Homo sapiens: one gene and its partners. The protein of the gene in region 1 interacts with the protein of each later gene in a biochemical or structural test. Each region holds a gene or a part of one and is shown in the gene's direction. Other genes may lie near its edges. The genes, in order: VAMP7, AGFG1 and ANKRD27.

Region 1 (7,710 bases):
CTTTCTCAGCCTGAGGTAATTTAAGTGGTAATGTTATTCTGCCACATTGTCATTTTCAGGATGTCAGATAAAAGCCTCAAGTATTAAAATTAAACTTTTTTTTTTCTTTTGAGACAGAGTTTTGCTCTTGTTACCCAGGCTGGAGTGCAATGGCATGATCTTGGCTCACCTCAGCCTCCACTTCCCGGGTTCAAGCGATTCTCCTGCCTCAGCCTCCCAAGTAGCTGGAATTACAGGCGTGCGCCACCACGCCTGGCTAATTTTGTATTTTTAGTAGAAACGGGGTTTCTCCATGTTGGTCAGGCTGGTCTCGAACTCCTGACCTTGGGTGATCCGCCCGCCTCAGCCTCCCAAAGTGCTGGGATTACAGGCATGAACCACTGCGCCCAGCCAAAATTAAAGTCTTATTCCATGCAGGTATCTTTCAATTGTAAATCATTACTGCAAAAGACAAATTTTGTCTTTATAACTGATTAAAAACAACAGCAGTACAAGAGTGCTTGAGTCATGACTGTCGTGAATTTAGGATGTGCCAACCTAAGATCAGCCAGATACTTCTAAGATGTAAACATTAAGCATTGTTATTTTAGGTGATTTATTGACACCTATTTCTTTATAGACAGGAATGCAAGTGCAGCACTGAATTGTGTGCCATTGCTCGTTTATAAGATACACATGTAGATGATCCAGAATATTCTTATACATTTTTCAGTGTTATCAAAATACAAATGCAGAATTAAAAGATTTCTCAAAACACATGGACTTGGCCTTTCCCCTTACTCAGTTACCTGAAACTGTCTTCAGCCTCTACTTGAAGATGCTTCTGCTGAGGAGGAGCATTTTCATCATTGCTGTTCTATGTTATTACCAAATTTTTTAATACAGGCAATTTCTTACTTACAAATGGATATATTCTAAAAGTACTGTTGTAAGCTTATTGTTTGGAACGCTGGATGCATTTCCTTCTATAAATAATGCTATCCATGACATTTACACTGTTATGCCAACCAGTATCATTTTATTAACTTTTAATTTAGTGGACTCGAAGACCTTCCCCACAATTTACAATAATTCCTCTATTAAAAAACTGCATTTATAATTCTCATTTGAATTCCCTTATAGCATATCTTTTTTTAGAAACCCAACAACTAGAACAAAAATATCCTTTCTTTAGTCCCTTAACATAGTAAAAACAGGCTTTTCTAACTCCAAACTGTTGTGGGTGACCCTTCTAGCCCTTAGCTCTAAGGACAGTCCTCCAATATGAGCAAGGAAAACGAAGGGACAGAGGTTTTAGAGAGGGAGGCAAGTTGGGTGATATGAGTATCTGGAAAGGGAAGGGTAGGATTTATTTGGGATGAACAGTGAGTTTCTAAAATGGAAGTTTGCATTGCTTGTCAGCCTTTTGGCTAAGATCAGGTGTAGTATCAGTTTAAAATGGGGGTTTGTTGTGGGTTGAATTGTGTCCTCCAGAAAGCTGTGTTGAAGTCCTAACCCGTGGTACCTGTGAATGGGATCTTATTTAGAAATAGGATCTTTGCAGATGTAATTAAGATGTAATTGAAAATGGGGTCATACTGGAGTAGAGTGGGCCCTTTATCCAATATGACTGGCATCCATATAAAAGAAGAGAGACAGAGAGAATGCAGTGTGAAGACACAGATACAGAGAACACCATGTGACTACAGAGGTAAAGATTGAAGTGCTGCACCTCCAAGCCAAGGAACACCAAGGATTGCCACCAAACTATCAGAAGCTAGAAAGAGATAAGGAAAGATTCTCTTCTACAGGTTTCAGAGGGAGCATAACCCTGCCAACATCTTGATTTTGGACTTTTAACCCTCAGAACTGGTAGGCGATACATTTCTGTTGTTTTAAGCAACCAAGTTTTTGGTACTTTATTACTGCAGCTACAAGAAACTAATACAGGATTCTTAGCAGGAATAAAGTAGAATTGGGATGGTGGCTGTGGGACCAAGTGGGGAGTGAATAGGAGAACAAAGAGGAACAGTGTTGATATGGGGCTTTCCTTTATGTTGCATTATCTTTTTTTCTTCCCTTCTCTCTCTGGCTTATCTTTTCATTCTTTTTCTTCTTGGATCTTATCTTTATATAGCACTTTATGGTTTATTAGGCATTTACATACTGCTAATAATTAGCAGAGCCAGGTTTTCTAACTTCAAGTGCAGTGTTCATTGTGCCACAATTGTTTCTGTTATCCCAATACTCATCAAGACGTTATGGATTCTATTACAAGACACTTACAATGGGGGCAGGTAAGACTTCATAGGTGGGATTTTTAGCAGTATAGCAGAGAGGAAGGAATTCCTATTAGTGACATCTGGAAGGAAAGTAAAGTTTCTGTTGCTATGTACCCACTGTTTAACAGTCATTTTTAAGTTGGGGACTGCTTTTATTGGAAGAAACACTACTTGCGTATAACTTATATTCATTGTTCCTAGTTATATTCTGAATAATGTGCTCCCTGTTCCAGGTGACTGTACTTTATATAAACTCAAAAACTATTGTCATGTTCCCTCTAAGTCCTCTCTTTCTCATGTTACATATCTCTAGTTCCTCCAGCCAGTCTTCAGATGACACAATCTCCATGTCTCTCACCCATATTGTATTGCCTCCCTTTTGTCTAGTCGTTAAATATTCTACCCAGAATTGAATTCAGTATTTTACATATGTTCTAACCAGCACAGAGTGTAATGGGACTAGTACTTAAACAGGTCAAGACACCCTATTTCTTAATGTACTTTGAGATTATGTAAGCATTTTTAAGCAATATCGCATACCGTTGGTTCATAATGAACTTACAGTCCACTGAAACACTAGATCTTTTTGTATTAATTGTTGCCAAGGTCAAGTTTCCTTCTGAACCTGCACAGGGACTGAGGCTGCTGCTACTTTTTCATCTCTCTGTTCCAGGGACCATATGATTTCTTATCTCTGTTTCTCTTTGTGTTTTTGTTCCTCTCTACTGTGTCTCTTTGACCCTAAGCAATGACCTCCTTCCTTGTTATAAAATTTCACTGATTGTTTTACAGTCTTCATTCTCTTTCTTTCCTTTCGGCTTCTGGGCCACCACACTTTTGGCTTTCCCATTTGGTCCTCCTCAGTCTTTGTGAGTCTCTATTTATCTACCTTTCCCTCAACTGTTGGTTGTGCTTTGGGTTTTATCTTTGGCACTATTTTTTTTTTCTGTATGCAATATATCTTCAGCAAATAAATCATGTTTAAAATGGCAGATCTAACTGAGCTCATCTGGGAATAAAAGGGCACAGAATCAGTCCCGGAGGAAAGTCGACATTTAGAGGTCAGGTAGAGGAGGAAGAGTCAGCAAGAAGACAAAAAGAGCAGCCAGAGATGTAGGAGCATTTCAAGAAGGAGGGTCGGTCAGCAGTGTTGACTGTGCCTAAGAGGTCAAGTAAGGTAAGAATAGAGAAGCAACCACTGTATTTTGCAATATAGAGGCTGTTGGTGACCTTAGGAAGCATGGTTTTCTGGAGTTTTAAGGGCAAAAGCTGGATTATAGTAAGTAGAAGAGTTGAAAGGAGGCAGAGGAGCAGAGATAATGCGTAACGATGCTTTGAAGAAACAGAACAGGGCCAGGTACGGTGGCTCATGCCTGTAATCCCAGCACTTTGGGAGGCCAAGGCAGGTGGATCACTTGAGCCCGGGAGTTCAAGACCAGCCTGGGTGACATGGTGAAACCCTGTCTGTACAAAAAAAAATACAAAAATAGCCGGACATGGTGGCACACACCTGTAGTCCCAGATACTCCAGAGGCTGAGGTAGGAGGATCACTTGAGCCTGATAAGTGGAGGCTGTAGTGAGCCAAGATTGTGCCACTGCACTCTAGCCTGGAGCTTGGGTGACAGAGCAAGACCCTGTCTCAAAAAAAAAAAAAAAAGAAAAGAAACAGAACAGTAGGATCCACAGTTAGGGAGGCTTTAGGATCAAGGGAGATAAAGTATAAGACAGCAATTTGGAAACTATAACTTACTGCATATGTGTAAGGAGAATTCTAGAAAGAAGATGGTTGAGATCACAACCCTGGGGAACAACTTCAGTTAGAGAGTAGGAATGAAAAAGAGATCCCCAAAAGGCATTCAGCCCAAGAGACAGATGAGCACCTTCTGCTCTGTGTGCTGTCCTTCCATGCTGGGATTGCAATAAGGAATCTGCACATTCCTTGATCTCAAACAGTTTATAGTTTGCTGTTGTGTTTCACAAAGTATGTTTGTGTGAATCACCTGCATCCAGACAGACTTGTATTAAATACAGATTCCAGGGCCCTACCTCAGGCCTACGGAATCAGAATTTCAGGAAGTGATGCCAAGAGTTTGAATTTTTAGCAAATGACTCATACTCTGCCACACAAGATGATTCGTATTCCCACTACAGTTTGAGAACCACTGGTATGTTGGGTACTGAGCATGTTAACAAATAAGAGTAGGTTTAACAGTTAATCGAAGACTAGACAAGGATTTGTTCATCTCTTTTTATGTTTATGCCATTAAATAAGAGAAGCTGGGCTTGTTAGGTGGGAAATAATAGCACATATTCATAGGCAGACATAAGGAAAATAATCTTAAACTCATGCCATATGGTTTTAGTAATGTTTTGTTTATGAAGGGTCTTACCATTCCTTTCTTGTGGAAGCTTTGAGTTATTTTCACTTTGTTTCTGTTATGGATAATGCCTTTATACTGGCAGTGTACAGTAAAAGGCTAAGATTATGAGCTCTAGAACCATACTGCCTAGGTTTAAATTGCAGCTCCACACTTACTAGCTCTGTAATTTGGGGGAAATTATTTAAGTCATCTGTGCTTCAGTTTTCTCATCTATAATAGAAGTATCATAATAGTGTATAATCTCATTGAGTTGTGAGGATTAAATGGATTAATAATTATAAAGTATTTAAAATGGTACCTGGCACATAGTAAACAATAAATATAGGCTATTTTTATTGTTAATAGTTATCTTTGTGAATCTAGAGTCTTAACTTCTGTTGAACTATTTCTCTAGGATAAATTTTCAGGATGGAATTTCTACATTAAAGAATGAAGACATCTTTATGTCCCTTTGCTATCTATAGTCATTGCTTTTCAAAAGGGTGATATCTGTTTGTGCTATAATAATTTGTAAATGCAAGCTATCAATGGTGTGTGTGTGTGTGTATGTGTTTTGTATGTCTCTTTATATGAATGCATACAAGCATGGCTTAGGTTGTAAGTTTGTAGAAAACTTTGACCTTCTTTTTAAGCCTGCTCTTAAGTCTGTTGTTAAGTTTCATGTTATAGTGCCTCGTTAGATACTATCTCCAGGTAGTATGTTGATAAATGATAGTAAGTTACCTTTGAAAGATTATGTCAAAGAAATATTCTAAATCTGTGTCTTTTTCCTTTTGATAGACTGAAGCCATGGCGATTCTTTTTGCTGTTGTTGCCAGGGGGACCACTATCCTTGCCAAACATGCTTGGTGTGGAGGAAACTTCCTGGAGGTGACAGAGCAGATTCTGGCTAAGATACCTTCTGAAAATAACAAACTAACGTACTCACATGGCAAGTGAGTTCTGTTCTGCATGTGGTAAGGGATGAAAGAAGGGAATTCTGTTACTCTAATCAGAACGGTAGAAAAGTAGAAAACAAGCTTCTAGGTACATAATTTGAATAAGCTGACAGAATAGTAACCTTCACCAACTTAGAAAATATATCTGGTTTTGTTACTTATAAATTTAACTTGTAATTATTTTATTCTATTATTGAAGTGATATTTTATTTTGAAGAAAGATGAAATGTTAAATGTAAAAATGACTTTGCTCTAGAGCTGTGTGATATGTGAAAATAATTCAGATAAGATAGATAATGTTCCTTTGTTCATTCTTTCAGTAAATATTTACTGAGCACTTAACTATTGCCAGGCACTTTGCTTGGTGCTGGGGATATAACAAGATATGTGGTATTTGCCCTCATAAGGGTTATAGTTTAATGAGGGAGAAAGTCAAATCCACGATGTCAAGGGTTGGGGGGATGGGAAGTAGTAGATAGGAGAATGGTATTCCAAGTAGAAGGAACAGCAGGTAGAGAAGTATGGAGGCATGAGATCATAGGGCGGGCATATTTAGGGAACTGCAGACTGTTCTCTGTGACTGGTGCCCAGGATGGTGAAAATAAAGCTAGAGAGATGGGTAGAAGAAAAGTCATGTAGGGCCTTGTAGGCCATATTAAGAGCTTGGACTTTACCTTGTGGGCAGTGGAAAGGCATTGAAGGTTTTCAGCCAGGGTGTGACAGAGTCAGGTTTGTTTTATTTATTTATTTATTTATTTATTTAGAAACAGAGTCTCACTCTGTCACCCAGGCTGGAGTGCAGTGGTGCGATCTTGGCTCACTGCAACCTCCATCTCCCAGGTTCAGATGATTCTCGTGCCTTAGCCTCCTGAGTAGCTGGGATTACAGGCGTGCACCACCATGCCCAGCTAATTTTTGTATTTTTAGTAGAGTTGGGGTTTCACCATGTTGGCCAGGCTTGTCTCAAGCTCCTGACCTCAGGTGATTCGCCTGCCTTGGCCTCCCAAAGCGTTGGGATTACAGGCGTGAGCCACTGCCCCTGGCCCTTCAGTCAGTTTTTGCTTTAGAAAGATCACTCTGGTGGCTTATTAGAGTGGCCATAGTTGGGAAATCTTAGTAATTAGTTTTAAAAAGTGCCTCAACCTTCCCCGTTGGCACTTAAAAATCTTTTCTTACTTAACCCAGCCTTACTTCCTTAGTTCTTATCTCAGAATGAGGTCCTTATTACTTTCTATGGCTAACCCCTTATACAGTTTAAGGTGTACTCTAAGCTACTATGAGAGAGACCCCCAAGATACAGTATTAATTTTAATGAGATAGTCCAGAGATGAGTGGTTTGGGATGTTGGGGTGGCTCTGCCATTTCCAATTCCCTAATTCCCAAAGCAATTAGTGCTTTCCACTTCTGGCCAAGGCAGCTCCTTTGGTGCTTGTTATATCCCAGTGCTTGCCCAGTAATTTTAAAGGCAGGGCCCAGAAGTGGCCTGATATTGTTGAGAAGCTTCCACTTACATCTTACTGTTCACTACACAGTCATGTAGCTAGCATAGCTAGAAGGGAGGCCAGGAATTGTCATCTCTGGCTATGTAGTCGTAGGCTCAACTAAAACTCTGTTACTCTGGAGGAAGTTATAGGATATCAGGGGATGACTTGCAGTCTTCCAGTCTACTCTCCTGGCCACCCAGATATTTCAGTGAACCTTTCTTCCCAAACATAGAATACGCCTCTTCTCTGAGAGAGGTAGCTCCAAAGACCTATCTAGTCACTGTGTTTGGCTCCAAGTCCAGCATGTCTAGGTGGTACACAGTCCTATCCATCAGGCCCTGGTGTGGCTCCTGTGGTCCACTGACCATAAAGTAAAAGATAAGTCATATGTTTTCCCTGCTTTCCCAGCCTAACCCAGTAGACAATGGTGAAATAAGAAAAGGATCATCACAGTGAGAGTTACAAACTCCCATTTGGAAAAGGGAAGAATGAGAAACATGTAGAAGTCATTGCTTTCCAGTAATGATCAAATAATTGCCTCACACAATTTCAAAGACTCCCTATTCTGACCAGGAAGTGGTTAGTGGTTCTGCTTTCTTGGAGGAACTCCCTCACCCTTTTTCCCTGACTCCTGGCTTTGTTCTC
Region 2 (7,710 bases), on another chromosome or scaffold:
TATGTGGCAGAGGTTTTGGAATATAGTAAAGTGTCCATCAAATACAGTCAATAGTTTCATGGCTTTGGGTAAATAACTACCCTGTCTCTTGTTTTCTCATTTGGGAAGTTTTAAAATAGAAGAATGAAAAACTTCCAGGCCTCCCTTTATGAATGTAACTGATAAATCTTTAAAAATCTTAAAGAATTACATTTTGGGAGAATCATTAGTTAGGTTTCTGCCTGAGGAGAGTCCCATGTAGTTCTTTGTAAGTGGCTAAATATTGGACAAGCTGGGTCTCTTAAAGGTCTGTAGTATTTCTGGCAGTAAGTTGTACTAATGTTCCTGGATGTCTGTACTTCTCAGGCGTTGCCAGTGAAATGTTTTCATAATGGATTGTGCCTTACTCTAGTTCTCACTCGTTTTAACTGTCACTTCCTAAATGACTTTATAGTATCTGTACTGAGCCTGGAATAGGAAGGAACCACAAGAAATATATATATAGACAGACAGACACGGAGTCTCACTCTGTCATCAGGCTGGAGTGCAGTGGCGCAATCTCGGCTCACTGCAACCTCTGACTCCCGGGTTCAAGCGATTCTCCTGCTTCAGCTTCTGGAGTAGCTGGGGTTACAGGCATGCGCCACCATGCCCAGCTATTTGTTTTTTCTGTATTTTTAGTAGAGGTGGGGTTTCACCATGTTGGCCATGATGGTCTCGATCTCCTGACCTCATGATCCGCCTGCCTTGGCCTCCCATAGTGCTGGGATTACAGGCGTGAGCCACCACGCCCGACCCACAAGAAATGTTTTGAAACAGATTTGGGGACATGATAGGAAAGGAGAAGGGCAAGTCCTTTCTCCTAACCTTTCTCTTATTTCTCCCATACCCAGTTCAGTGAGCAGGTAAGATTGAGAAGTACGCTTTTCCTTCCCTGATTTCTTAAATACTTGTCAGGGTTTTTGAAACCAGATACTATGCTCTTTTCATAGTGTCGTAATTGCTTATTCTTTAGAATAATGTATTTTGGAAACTCGTGGACTTGTTTTTGATAATTTTGCTGAGGAATAGTTGATAACTTGGATATTTAAACTGATAACGTGTACATACTTAAAGTGTACAATTTGATGAGTTTTGACATTTGTATGTATCATGAAACCACTACCACAATAACAAGATAGCATATATTTTCATTGTGCAACCCTTTGTAATGAATCCACTGATCTGCTTTTCATCGCTGTAGACTGGTTTACATTAAAAATTTAAATGAATGGAAATATGCAGTATATACGTTTTGGTGGGGGGGTGCACATGTTTCTTTCAGCATAATCTTGAGGTTTATTCATGTTTCTTGTATTAATGGTTTTCTCCTTTTAATTGCTGAATAATGTTCTTCTTTGGATATTCTCCCATTTGTTTATTCACTTGTTTATGAACAATTGGGTGATTTCCAGTTTGGGGTTATTATCAGTAAAGCTGCTACAAATATTTATGTACAGTCTGAGTGTGGAAAAGTGCTTTTATTTTTCTTGAATAAATACCTAGAAGTAGAATGGCTACATCATATGCTAGGTCTATGTTTAACTCTTGAGAAACTGCCAAATGTTTTCCAAAGTGCTTACACCATTTTACATTCTAAAGAATTCCGGTTGTTCCACATTGTTACCAACACATGATGCAGTCACACTTTGTTTTCGGCTTTTCTAGTAGTATATGCATGTCTGTCTTGTGGAGTCTCAGTGTCTTTTTTTTTTTTTTTTTTTTTTTAAAGACAGAGTTTTGCTCTTGTCGCCCAGGCTGGAGTGCAATGACATGATCTTGGCTCACTGCAACCTCCCCTTCCTGGGTTCAAGCCATTCTTCTGACTCAGCCTCCTGAGTAGCTGGGATTACAGGCATGCACCACTACGCCTGGCTAATTTTTTTGTATTTTTAGTAGAGATGGGGTTTCACCATTTTGGCCAGTCTAGTCCCGAACTCCTGACCTCAGGTGATCCGCCTGCACCCGGCCTCAGTGTCATTTTAATTTGCATTTTATGCATGACTAATGATAGTGGGCTGCTGATATCTTTGGTGAAGTGTTTGTTCAGACCTTTTGCCCCCGCTTTAAACAAGTGTTGGCTGGGCATGGTGGCTCGCGCCTGTAATCCCAGCACTTTGGGAGGCTGAGGCGGGCAGATCGCTTGAGCTCATGAGTTCGAGACCAGCCTGGGCAACATGGTGAAACACCATCTCTACAAAAAATACAAAAAATTAGCCACCTGTGGTGCTGCACTCCTGTAGTCCCAGCTTACTCAGGAGGCTGAAGTGGGAGGATGGCTTGAGCCTGGGAGGCAATAAGCTGAGATTGCACCACTGCACTCCATCCTGGGTGATAGAGACAGACCTTTTCTCAAACAAACAAAAACCAAAACAAGTGTTGGGTTATCTGTCTTTTATAATTGAGTTGTAGGAATTCTTTATATATTCCAGTTTCAAGTTCTTATACATTTTACAAATACTTTTGATCAGTTGGTGTCTTGATTTTTGTACTTTTTAAGTTTTTTTGAAGAATAGTTTTTTATTTTGATGAAGTCTGCTTTATCAGTTTTTCTCTTTATAGTTCTTTTTGTGCTATTTTATTTCATTTCTCTTTTGGTTTTTCTGAAAGTTAAATATCTCAGATTCTCATTTTTTAGCTATTGGACCAAAAATGCATAGGAGACAGCTATAAAGCTAATAGTGTGTTTGCCTTATATTTGTGTTTATTGTTACAATTTTAAAGTGTTTATGATTCTAGTATTTTTGTTTGTTCTTTTTGGTTTTTTAGACTTGCTAAAGGGCCTGTGAAATAGCCATTGGTTCAGTTCCTTTGTTTTGTAAGGGAACTGAGCAGGTTACATGACTTTGCTAATGGTGAAGTTTATGATTATGCCAAGACTGAAAAGACCCCAGGTCCTCTGAAATCCCACTTCACTCTTCATTTCCCCTTTTTAATGATTTTGTTGCTAAAATTTTACTGCATACTGCAACATATTAAAAATAAATTTAGTTCCTGTTTATTAGTATCCTCATTGAAAGCATATTATTAAAATTATTATGTAGATTAGCTTCCTGAAAGAATCATAGTATCCCCTTAAAATTTCATTAAGTGAAGATGTTGAATTTAACATATATTTTTTTAATTCTTTCCAAAGGTCTGTAAACAGATTTGGCTAGGATTATTTGATGATAGATCTTCAGCAATTCCAGACTTCAGGGATCCACAAAAAGTGAAAGAGTTTCTACAAGAAAAGTATGAAAAGAAAAGATGGTGAGTGAAGAGTTTGTATGTAGAATAAAGCCTCCCCAAATCACATATTAACTATGGGTAAGGTTAGTCTGACACAATGAAGGATAAAAGACAGACAGTGAGAACTAGATAGGTATATAATTCATTATCCCTTGGCTTTTTGTTGGTTTGGTTTCTGAAAACCTTTACTTCTACTTTATCTTAACTCATCTGTTCCTGGCAGCAGGCTTTTTGTTGTAATAATTACCAGGAAAGTTAGGGATTCTTCCTTCTAATCATTCCCTATCTCTGTTAGCTTCTTTAAATATGTTTTGCCCTACAAAGCCTCCGTTCTTAAAAATCATTAATTTAGCAAGTATTTACTGAGTCATATCTTTTTTTAATTTATTGAGTTTCATCTTCTGTATACTAGGCACTATGCTAAAGCTCTGGTGTAGTAATCCATCTACTTAATTGTCTGTTGTAGCCTTTGCTCAAAATATTTTTTCTTTTGACCTAAGAAATCAGTTTACTTTCTGGTTAAGAAGGGAGCATTTACTTTTCCCTAACTAAATCTATCAGATGTTAATTTTTAAAAATTAATTCCAACAGGTTGTACATATAGCTAGTAAGCCCCTTGCTATGGAATAGGGACTATATCTATAAAGCTAGTGTTCAGCTACTGAGGGTTCTTCATTTTTAGCTATATGAGCACAATTTAAGTTACTAAGACTCATTAACTATGAACTTTTGGTTATTTCTTTAATAGTATTGCATAGTGGATACTTTCATCTTGGGAGGTTAACAAGATGGGGCAGAGAGTCAAAATAGAGGGAATAAATAATGGGGAAGTAACGAGCTTCTTGTTTGCTTGAGGAACTCTGTTTCAACCCAAGAGAATCTGTTCAGAGCCTGTTTTGGTCCTGAGGGAACATTTGTTGTGGTTTACAGCAGAGGTCTTTACCTTCATTCAGGAGCACATTAGCTCTGACTTGCATGCTCTATCAAAATTTGTATTCTTACTACTTTCCAAAATAGACTACATTTTTCTTTTTTTTTTGGAGACTGAGTTTTGCTTTTGTCACCTAGGCTGGAGTGCAATGGTGCGATCTCGGCTCACTGCAACCCCCGCCTCCTGGGTTCAAGCAATTCTCATGCCTCAGCCTCCCAAGTAGCTGGGATTACAGGCACCCACCACCACGCCTGGCTAATTTTTTGCATTTTTAGTAGAGACAGGGTTTCGCCATGTTGGCCAGGCTGGTCTTGAACTCCTGACCTCAGGTGATCCACCTGCCTCAGCCTCCCAAAGTGCTGGGATTACAGTTGTGAGCCACTGTGCCCGGCCTAAAATAGACTACTTTTTGCAAGGCAAGATTAGTCAGGGCTATATTCAGCTGTACTAGAAGACATCAAGTATGAAAATAGATTAAAATACACCAGTAAAATTTAAGTTCAGGAAAGAAGAAAATACTAGAAGGTGGGTTGGTAGTAAAAATATGGTAGCATAAATGATTCTTTTAAAATGAAAGGTATAATTATCCTTTTATCATTTTGGTTCTGAATTTCCTAGACATTCTACCCTGTAGGAAAGACTGTTCTCCTTACATAGCCCTAACCTAGTTTTGTTTTCTCAGCCGTGTTACTTTTACCAATTCAGAAAGTGAGTTTGGTTAGGGATTAGTTTATGGTCAGCTCTAGCTATCAACAGAAAAGTGAGTGTGAGTAACAGTTGGTAGAATTAAAATCATAGATCCTTACCCCCACATTTATAACAGTAATGTATTATTCATTCAAACTATAACGCAAATACCTAGAAACCTCAAATAATTACAGTTTATGTTATTTTTTTTCTTTCCTGAGAAACAGGATAATAAGAGTTATACAAATAGAGACTTCAAGTGGTGGGACAGGTGACCATCATTAAGAGGGCCAGGACCTGTATGTTTTTAATCCAGACTGCTGCACACCTGTAACATACAGCTAGCAAGCAGTGAAATTGGTTTCTAACATGGAATAAGCACTATCCAGATGCAGCATCTCTAAAAATACTCACTGTAACTATACTTAAAACAGTGATGATGGTGTTATCCAAAGGGATTTTGAAACTGTTCTTTTGACCAGTTCTCAAAATCACTTTCTGTGTTATACTAGAAGACATCAGGTATGAAAATAGATTAAAATACACCAGTAAAATTTAAGTTCAGGAAAGAAGAAAATCCTAGAAGGTGGGTTGATAGTAAAAATATGGTAGCATATTACTTTGCCAGGTGAGTCTTTTGAACCAATAACTATCATTTGATTTTATCCTTTGATAAGACTTGGCTATACTGAAGAATTTGTATTAGTAGTATGCTAAATTATGGGAAAATATAACTTCTTGTATTCATTCTCATACATCTTTTATCTCTCCCATTTACTTGAAAGCAGTTGTTTGTGATTATTATGTAGTTTAGTGACAGTGAACACTTAGTTAACACGTATACCAGGAATTGTTCTCAGTGCTTTACAAATGTTAACTTGTTTAAACCTAGGCAACTCTGCCTCTCCATTTTATAAATGAAAAAAATGGAAGCACAAAGAGTTGAAGTATTAATAGTTTGCCCAAGGTTTCACAGCCATTTAGTGGTAGAGCTGGGATTTGAACTCTTGTCTCTGGAACAGGTGCTCTTAAGCATGGTTTTCCTTCTTTCCTCACCTACTTCATATGGGGAATAAGAAGGAGGGTAGGACAAAACCCAGAATTACAAAGAGCAAAAGCTCTCACATAATCCCACACCTAGAGGTCAGGATTGCCTATGTTTGGACATTATTATATCCTTGCTACCTCTCCTTTCTTGACTCGCCTCCTCACATAAATCATGTGTTTATATGACTGGAATCAAATCTGAAAGACCTGTGAAGTTTCCTCTTTCCATGTCAAAGCAGAGTAGCTATGAGTATTGTATTATCGTAAATTTTTTTTCCTTGATAGATGTTGGGTTTGTTTCCCAGTTTTTGTGAAATTATAAAGAGAGGACTGTGGTTAACATCCATGTGTACATGCATCTGTATACACTTACCAATTCTTAAGGATGTTTCTGGAAGTGGCACTTCTGGTGCACAAAGCACACCTATTTATATATTTTAGTAGGTAGCAATAAAAAATTGTAAAGTTCACACTTAGCTCATAGGTGAATAAAACCTTAATTTGCATTTTTGTCAGGTTAAAAGTGTTTTCATTTTTGTGTCTCCTGTCTTCTGTGAATTGCTTCTTTTGTTCATTTAAAATGGGATGATCTTATTCTTACAGATGTAATAAGCCTTTATATTTTAGGCTGTTAACTGTAATATTACAAATGTTTTCCTACCTCATCTTTCTTCAAATGTTATTTAGATCTTAAGATAATTTTAAAAATTATAGTATGAACTATTCATGGTGATGACTAATTGTAGGTCCTCTGTTTAAAAAAAGCAGTTATTTCTTATATTGTACTTAATATCTTAGAAAAACCATAAATAAGTAATTGAAACAAGTTTTGTGGTTAGTCTTCTCTTTTCTCTGAGTATTTCAAATATTTAATGGGTGTAGTCTTAAGCTGTCGTTCCTTTTTTAAAAAATATGCAAAGTTATTCTGTGTGAGAGGGTTTTCAGATAAGATTAATGGTGAAACAATCTTGTACAAAGTTAGAATTAAGCTTATCATTTTTTGATATAGAATTACCTACATTTTTTTTTAGTTAACTGTTTTTTACATGTTTTAGGTATGTCCCGCCAGAACAAGCCAAAGTCGTGGCATCAGTTCATGCATCTATTTCAGGGTCCTCTGCCAGTAGCACAAGCAGCACACCTGAGGTCAAACCACTGAAATCTCTTTTAGGGGATTCTGCACCAACACTGCACTTAAATAAGGGCACACCTAGTCAGGTGAGTAGTCTTTGAATCTTTGTAGGGAATTCGACTTAAAGAGGGCTTGAGTATCAAGAATTTGAGAATTGTTTAAGACAGCAGCATAATCTTGTATGCCAGTAGCATTATGTTCCAATGGTTTGTTATACATTAAGAAATTGTTGGTTAAGTGGTTGAAATGTATATATACTTGTTCTTTTTGCTATTGCTAATATGAGTTTCTTTGACTTCTCTGCAACTTTGTAAAGGTGAGTTATACAGGAATGTTGCTATAGCTATATATATGTGTGTGTGTGTATACATGTATATATCATGTGTTATACAATTTGTAAAACATGAATCTATGGTGACCATCAGAGTTAGAATGTATAGTCTCTTTGATACACTTTTCTAGGAAGGGATTTCTTTAGTAGTAGAGTTTTCCCACATGTGTGATTGTGAAGCATGTTGATCATTGAAACACAAGGGACTTTGCATTATACCTTATTCTTAAAAATGAACAAAATGGAATATTTTCATAAGTTGCTACCTAAAGTTTGTCTTCTACACTTTATTATAGTTGATGGGGCTGTGACAGATCTGTTACTGTGTGGCAT
Region 3 (7,710 bases), on another chromosome or scaffold:
ATAGGACAGAGTCAGGAACCAGCAGAGGCTTCAGCCGGCCTGACCTGTTTGTTTCTTTTTCAGAAGAGCCTTTGGCACCCTCAGATCCCTTTTCCCTGAAAACCATTGAAGATGTGAGAGAGTTCTTGGGAAGACACTCCGAGCGATTTGACAGGAACATCGCCTCTTTCCATCGAACATTCCGAGAATGCGAGAGAAAGAGCCTCCGTCACCACATAGTCAGTAGCCGTGCTGTCCTCTGCCTGGCGTGCCCTGTCTCGGTTCAGTGCAGGGTGCTGGGAGCCCTCAGTTTCCTCTGGAACTGCCTGGTGCTGCCTCACTGTTTGAAGTCTTTTAAAAATGTTTCTCTCTAACTATAAAAGTAGTTTAACCGGGCATGGTGGTACAAGCCTGTCTTCCCAGCACTTTGGGAGGCCGAGATGGGAGGATCTCTTGAGGCTGGGAGTTCAAGACCAGCCTGGGTAACATAAAAAGACCCCATCATTACAGAAAATACAAAAATTAGCCAGGCATGGTGGCATGCACGTGTATTCCCAGCTACTTGGGAGGCCGAGGTGGGAGGATGGCTTTAGCCCAGGAGTTTGAGACTGCAGCGTGCTATAGTCATACCACTGCACTCTACTCTGGGCAACAAAGTGAGACCCTGTCTCTTAAAAAGAAAAAACAAACCAAGTGGTAAAGTCATGGGGAAGTATAACAATGAGTATTATTATCCTCTGTGTTAACCCCAAGGGGAAGTTTCTCCTGCTTTTAATGCATATACACCTAAAAAAAAAGTTGAGAAAAATCACGTAATTGACTTCATAAAGCTTGTGTTAGCACTTGAAGCTCTGTGCGCCTTACCCGCTCCGGCTCCCCCGTCATGGCCTTGCTGGTAAGGGTGGCCTGTCCCTCTGCTCTATGTGGTTTAGGACTCAGCGAATGCTCTCTACACCAAATGCCTCCAGCAGCTTCTGAGGGACTCTCACCTGGTAAGCAGCAGGACTTCTGAGAGGGAGAATTGTGGTGCACCCCCATGCAAATCCAAGCCCTTTCACTGTGCTTTTCTTGCCCTCTAGAAAATGCTCGCCAAGCAGGAGGCCCAGATGAACCTGATGAAGCAGGCAGTGGAGGTGAGGGTGGGGCGGAGTGGCTGGGAGGCACACCCTGTTGCCCGCTCACACCCTGAATGGGGTCTGTTGATTCCACAGATATACGTCCATCATGAAATTTACAACCTGATCTTTAAATACGTGGGGACCATGGAGGCAAGTGAGGTAGGTTCTCAGTTATTATCACCCAAGATGGAAGCCTTCTTCTGTGCTTTTTGAGAAATTTGAAGGTTCGTTAAAATCTGTTGTTAGGATGCGGCCTTTAACAAAATCACAAGAAGCCTTCAAGATCTTCAGCAGAAAGATATTGGTGTGAAACCGGAGTTCAGGTAAGGGTTTGCGCCACAGCGGCTTGGTGTCCTCAGAGGCAGGGGTGCTGTCTTCTCCCGGAAGCAGGCCCTCTCGGTGGCAGAGGTGACACGCTGGTTTGATGTGGTTAGTTCTGAGGAGCAGCGCAGTTACTTGCAACCAAAGATAAAGGGCTGCCCTTTATAGGTGACTGTGTGTGGCCGTCCCCCTCCCACACTGCACCAGCACGCCAGCTGGATGGGAGCCGCTGGGCACGGGGTTTTGTGCAGCTGGTCCCCAAGTGGGCATGTAATTTGCCCATGTGGGTTCTGCGTGCAGGGGACATCCCACCTGCCCACCCAAGGGAACCTTGCCATAGAGATACCTACTTAGGAGTTAATTCATTTCTTTAATTTTTATTCTTTTTGAGACAAAGTCTCACTCTGTCGCCCAGGCTGGAGTGCAGTGGTGTGATCTCGGCTCACTGCAACCTCTGCCTCCTGAGTTCAAGTGATTCTCCTGCCTCAGCCTCCCGAGTAGCGGGATTACAGGTGCACACTACCATGCCCTGCTAATTTTTGTATTTTTAGAAGAGATGGGGTTTCACCATGTTGGCCAGGCTGGTCTTGAACTCCTGACCTCAAGTGATCTGCCCACCCTGGTTTACAAGTGCTGGGATTACAGGCGTGAGCCACTGCGCCGAGCCTAATTTAAGTTTCATTAGGACACAAAAATGTTTCACCTACCACAACCCTCTTTGGGTTGTTTCCCTCTAGGAATAGGATTTTTTTTTTTCAGCTTTTCTTGTACAACTCTATCACCTGGCAGCCTGAATGGGATTGAAGGCTCTTCTGTTTTGCCGCTGACTTGAGTCAGATGACTTCTCAGTATCTGTTTTTGTGTTTCATTCCTTCTGGTTTGTTGTGAGAAGTGTAGATCCTGAGATGTGTTCTTAGATCCAGGCCAGAGGGTTCTCTTACTGTGCTCTGAAGTTGTCACTTTCCAAATTATTTTACAGCTTTAACATACCTCGTGCCAAAAGAGAGCTGGCTCAGCTGAACAAATGCACCTCCCCACAGCAGAAGCTTGTCTGCTTGCGAAAAGTGGTGCAGCTCATTACACAGTCTCCAAGCCAGAGAGGTTTGTGCTTGGAAAGGGGACTGGCCAAGGGGTAGATGCTACATCCAGATGAAAAAGCAAAGAGTGATGCTGTCTTAAGGGATTTTTATGGGGCTGGGTGCAGTGGCTCACCTCTGTAACCCCAGTGCTTTGGGAGGCCAAGGTGGGAGGATCACTTGAGGCCAGGAATTGGAGGTTGCAGTGAGCTATGATCACACCAGTGCACTACAGCCTGGGTGATAGAGTGAGACCCCTTCTCAAAAAAAAAAAAAAAAAAGAAGAAGTAAAAGAAAACAAGTCAAGAAAAAGTCAGTAAGGAAGAGACATAGCTGTATGTGTAGATAAGGGATGATCCTGAGTGTATGGAATGAAATAAACAGGAATGCATATGGTAGACTTCCAGCCAACAGCATCAAAGAATGGGGGATAGCTGTTTAGCCACGATATGATGGTGAGCTCATAGCTGTCCTGGACAGATGTGCAGGAAGCAACAGCAGGAGCCTCTGGGAAAAGAGACTGGCTGGCAGGGATGGGAGGAACATTCACAGTTTGCTCTTTTGTATTGTTTGAATTTTTAAATGTGAATGAATTACTTAAAATTTCAAAATGGAAAAAAAGTGAAACTCCACATGGGCAGTGGACTCCATGTCTATAAAATGGAAGTGACCTTAGGAAGGACCTTGGTGACTTTAGGAAGAAAGAGACTTTAGGTGATGGCTCTGGGCTCATCTTCATTTTTTATCACTGAAGCCACCTCCCTGGGCTCTTTCAGCGTCCAAGGGGGTGGCAAGGCATGGTCTGCTTGGAGTTAACATATTTTTTTTTTTTCTTAAGAGACAGGGTCGGCTGGGCGCGGTGGCTCACACCTGTAATCCCAGCACTTTGGGAGGCTGAGGCGGGCAGATCACGAGGTCAGGAGATCGAGACCATCCTGGCTAGCACGGTGAAACCCTGTCTCTACTAAAAATGCAAAAAAAAATTAGCTGGGCATGGTGGCGGGCACCTGTAGTCCCAGCTGCTCAGGAGGCTGAGGCAGGAGAGTGGCGTGAACCCGGGAGGCGGAGCTTGCAGTGAGCCAAGATTGCGCCACTGCACTCCAGTCTGGGTGACTGAGCGAGACTCCGTTTCAAAAACAAACAAACAAAAAAAAGAGACAGGGTCTCACTCTGTCACCCAGGCTGGGTGCATTTGTAGATCACTACATCCTTGAACTCCTGGGCTCAAGTGATCCTCTTGCCTCAGCCTCCCAAGTACCTGGGATTACAGGCATGCACCACCACCCTTGGCTAATTTTCATATTTTTTTGTAGAGGTGGGGGTCTTGCTATATTGCCCAGGCTGGCCTCAGACTCCTGGCCTCAAGCAATTCTCCCGTCTCGGCCTCCCAAAGCACTGGGATTACAGGCACGTGCTGCCGTATCTGGCTAGAGTTACTAATACCTTGTTTTGGTCATGTTCTGAAATTGCTGGGCATTCTTTTCCCCCTGGACCTGACATCTGATCAGGACGCTGTAAAGGAGCTTGTGCAATGACATTTCTCCCCCAGTGTATGATCTCCCTGATACGTGGTTTCACAAGGTGTGCGGTGGTAGGGAGTTGATATGCTTGTCAGTCCATTTGAATCTCATGATGGCATTGAATGTGTGTTTCCCCTTTGCAGTGAACCTGGAGACCATGTGTGCTGATGATCTGCTATCAGTCCTGTTATACTTGCTTGTGAAAACGGAGATCCCTAATTGGTAACATTTTCTTTTAAGATACTCTTTTGAAAATGGCAGTGCTTGGCCGGGCACGGTGGCTCACGCCTGTAATCCCAGCACTTTGGGAGGCCAAGGCGGGCGGATCACGAGGTCAGGAGATCGAGACCATCCTGGCTAACACGGTGAAACCCCGTCTCTACTAAAAAATACAAAAAAATTAGCTGGGCATGGTGGTGGGCACCTGTAGTCCCAGCTACTCAGGAGGCTGAGGCAGGAGAATGGCGTGAACCCAGGAGGCGGAGCTTGCAGTGAGCTGAAATCGCGCCACCGCACTCCAGCCTGGGCGACATAGCGAGACTCCGTCTCAAAAAAAAAAAATGGCAGCACTGCACTGTGGTAGTTCTAATGTAACTCTAGGAAAAGCCCATCTTCAATTGGACACCTGTTACGAGCTAGGTGTGGGGCCTCCCCTTGCTTCATCCATCCACTTACAGATGGGGAAACCAAGGCCCGGAGAGCTTACATTTCTTGTTCTGGAATGAGTGTCTAGACAGTGGTTGAGCAGAAAGCTGATTGCCATTCTTTCTGGCCCCAAAACCCATAATCTCTCCCCTGGAACCCACAGCTCAGTTTACGGTAATCAGCTTGCTAAAGACTATTTCAGGGAACTAGCTAGTCATTTTACTTGTGTTCCTAATCGCACACACTCTGCAGAGAGATCCAGGGGATGGTGGTCGTAGCTTCCTGAGCGAACCAACTGACTAGATATTTGATCAGTTGCCCAAGCCAATGATATTTTTTTTGCAGAAGTGTGACTTGGATAGACAACAACATAACTTTTTTCTTCCTTTCATTAGGATGGCAAATTTGAGTTACATCAAAAACTTCAGGTTTAGCAGCTTGGCAAAGGATGAACTGGGATACTGCCTGACCTCATTCGAAGCTGCCATTGAATATATTCGGCAAGGAAGCCTCTCTGCTAAACCCCCTGTAAGATCTCACCCCTGCCCTGGCCTTCCTTTGTGGGCATCATGGTTCCCTTGATAGGGTGCTGGGGTTGGTATGTGGGCAGACGGATTCTTAAATTGCCTCCCAGGAATGGGGCCTCAGCTGTTTGAGGGCTGTGAGTCTTAAAAATCACTCAGTGAAGAGAACACCAAGCCCTCAATTGGTGGTAAAAATTGGTGGGTTATCATTGGGATTTACATTGTTAATATCCTACTTCATTAGTCCCCATCCTCTCCAAAGACATGTGGGTGCAAAGGGAAGCCAGAAGTAGGGAATTTGGATTTCTTGACCTTGATAGTCAAGAAGTGATGTCACGGGATCCCTGGACTGTCGCTTTTCCAGCCGGAAACCTCTGTGGCTGGTGGCTCCTTTGCCTGAGTTTTGTTCGGGCCTGCTGGGCTCATTTCACGCTCTTGGCCTGGCAGGCTGCGCTCGGCTTGTGCTACTGGCCTGGATCCCATGCCTGCCAAGGGCGAGCCAGGTGTGGAGTGGCGAGGGGTATGTGAGCAAGTGCAGGGTCTGGCCACTGCACACAACCAGGTGTGCCGACTGAGGTGGGGTGGGCAGCTCCAAGTTGCTTGTACAGGGTCCTGCTCCATGCAAGGCTGCAGCTAGAGCAGGCGTACTGTAGGCCGCTTCCACGGTGGGCACTGGGGAACACAGTGGGGCCTGGAAGCTTGGAGACACCAGGAACTGCAGAGCCCCAAAGAGGGTGTCATAGCCCTGGCTCGGGGAACTCCTAGGTTGGGCTCCCTGAAGGGCCAGAGCTCTTCTCTCCTCTCGTCACCTGCAATGTAGTGAGTCGGGAGCATGTTTTAGCTCTCTTTATGTTACAGCTCTTTCAGTCCTGCCATTTGGTGGGTCCCGAGTTCTTGTCCCATGTCGAGGAAGAATGAGGTACGTAGACTAGTGGAGGGTGAGCAAGGCAGAGAGGAGCTTTACTGAACGGCAGAATAGCTCTCAGGAGACCCACAGTGGGCAGCTTCTTTCCACAGGCAGGTCGTCCTGACGAGTTAAAGAGGCCTGACGTAGGTAGCTCCTTCCTGCAGTTGGTAGTCCCGACATCTGTCTGAGTCTGGCTGAGTCCGGGGTTTTTTATGGCTCAGAAGGGAGGGAGTATGTGCTGATTGGTCCATAGGTGGGCCTGGAGAAAGCACCATGAGTTCTCAGTCTGGGTCGTGGACTCCACTTGGGACTGACAGCCCGGCCCCCAGGCTTTAGGCTGTCCCTGTCTTGAAGGTGGGGCTTCACTGGGCACCTGCACCTTTCCACCCAGAAGCGTGTCTGCCTTCTGCCACCATCAACATGCTGGCCAGTGCATCCAGGCTGTTTGTGCCAAGGGGCATCTGCAGGCCTGCACTGAGCTGCCCTCAGCCCCTACCTTGACTACTCTCCCATGCTCATCAGCGCCCAAAATCTTGGAGGGGTCTGAGGCATCAGGAGGCTGGTGTGTCAGTGTCACACCAAGCATGTGCACACATGGCTGGGTTGCAACAGTACCCGGGCTTGGCCTCAGCTTTGCTCTGAAATTGAAGTCGGTGCCAGGAGTGGGGAGGAGCGGGAGCAGGCACTTACGAGCCTGCGGCGGCAGGGATGCTTCCTGGGCCCCTGAGAGTGCAGAGATTCCTGGATCCAGAGCTGCGGCTGGGCGGCTGCAGCTGCGCCTGGGAGTGCAGGGCTCCCGCCCTGCCAGCTCAGTAGGAGATGGGGGCTCCTGCCTGTTCCTGGCTCCTGTTGGCCCTGCAGAGTGCACAAACCTGGCCGCGCTTCCTCCACTGCAGCTTACGTCTTTGCAGCAGCCACTCCCGATGGGCTGCCACTGCCATCTGTGAGACCATTAATGTGTGCAATTTGAGGACTCAGTGGCCTTGCCATTGTTTCCTTGGTTTTTATTGAGCATTGGCTGGGGTCGGCGAGGGGATGTGATTATATTTCTATGTGAATCGTGAGAATCTTGAACCATGGTTGTCCTGCTGGCCTGTTTTACTACATACCAATGAGTAAAATGTGATCATACAGAAATCACAAAGTTGAAATCTATAAAATGAAAAGATCTCTGTATTATAAGGTGAGAGTGCCAAGGATTGAACATTCATCTTTGTCAGACTTTGATGTAGAATCTCCCAAAATAATGATGAGCTAAAGCGTCTGGGAGACAGCATCAGCCTGTCCAGGTGCTCTCAGGTGCAGGCATTTCCACCCCATTCATTCGTTATTGACACGTTCATGCATTTTCAGTCTTTTTCCTACCCATGTATATTTTACATAATTGAAATTATATTGTGTGCTGGGCCGGGCACGGTGGCTCACGCCTGTAATCCCAGCACTTTGGGAAGCCAAGGCAGGTGGATCATCTGAGGTCAGGAGTTCGAGACCAGCCTGGCCAACATGGTGAAACCCTGTCTCTACTAAAAATACAAGAATTAGCTGGGTGTGGTGGCAGGTGCCTGTAATCCCAGCTACTTGGGAGGCTGAGGCAGGAGAATTGCATTAATCCGGGAGGCA

Evidence for each region.
Region 2: the proteins of VAMP7 (region 1) and AGFG1 form a complex in vitro, tested with the Homo sapiens proteins (one study listed by IntAct).
Region 3: the proteins of VAMP7 (region 1) and ANKRD27 form a complex in vitro, tested with the Homo sapiens proteins (one study listed by BioGRID).

Annotation. Positions count from the first base shown.
Region 1 is NC_000023.11:155,884,035-155,891,744, forward strand, and holds part of VAMP7 (vesicle-associated membrane protein 7), read left to right. Parts: intron 1-5,423; 5' UTR 5,424-5,432; coding exon 5,433-5,578; exon of another isoform or gene 5,579-5,594; coding exon of another isoform or gene 5,595-5,599; intron 5,600-7,710. UniProt on the Homo sapiens protein: Involved in the targeting and/or fusion of transport vesicles to their target membrane during transport of proteins from the early endosome to the lysosome. Required for heterotypic fusion of late endosomes with lysosomes and homotypic lysosomal fusion.
Region 2 is NC_000002.12:227,516,794-227,524,503, forward strand, and holds part of AGFG1 (arf-GAP domain and FG repeat-containing protein 1), read left to right. Parts: intron 1-3,154; coding exon 3,155-3,270; intron 3,271-6,969; coding exon 6,970-7,132; intron 7,133-7,710. UniProt on the Homo sapiens protein: Required for vesicle docking or fusion during acrosome biogenesis. May play a role in RNA trafficking or localization.
Region 3 is NC_000019.10:32,636,833-32,644,542, reverse strand, and holds part of ANKRD27 (ankyrin repeat domain-containing protein 27), read left to right. Parts: intron 1-63; coding exon 64-218; intron 219-911; coding exon 912-971; intron 972-1,058; coding exon 1,059-1,112; intron 1,113-1,190; coding exon 1,191-1,256; intron 1,257-1,343; coding exon 1,344-1,420; intron 1,421-2,397; coding exon 2,398-2,519; intron 2,520-4,157; coding exon 4,158-4,236; intron 4,237-5,054; coding exon 5,055-5,187; intron 5,188-7,710. UniProt on the Homo sapiens protein: May be a guanine exchange factor (GEF) for Rab21, Rab32 and Rab38 and regulate endosome dynamics.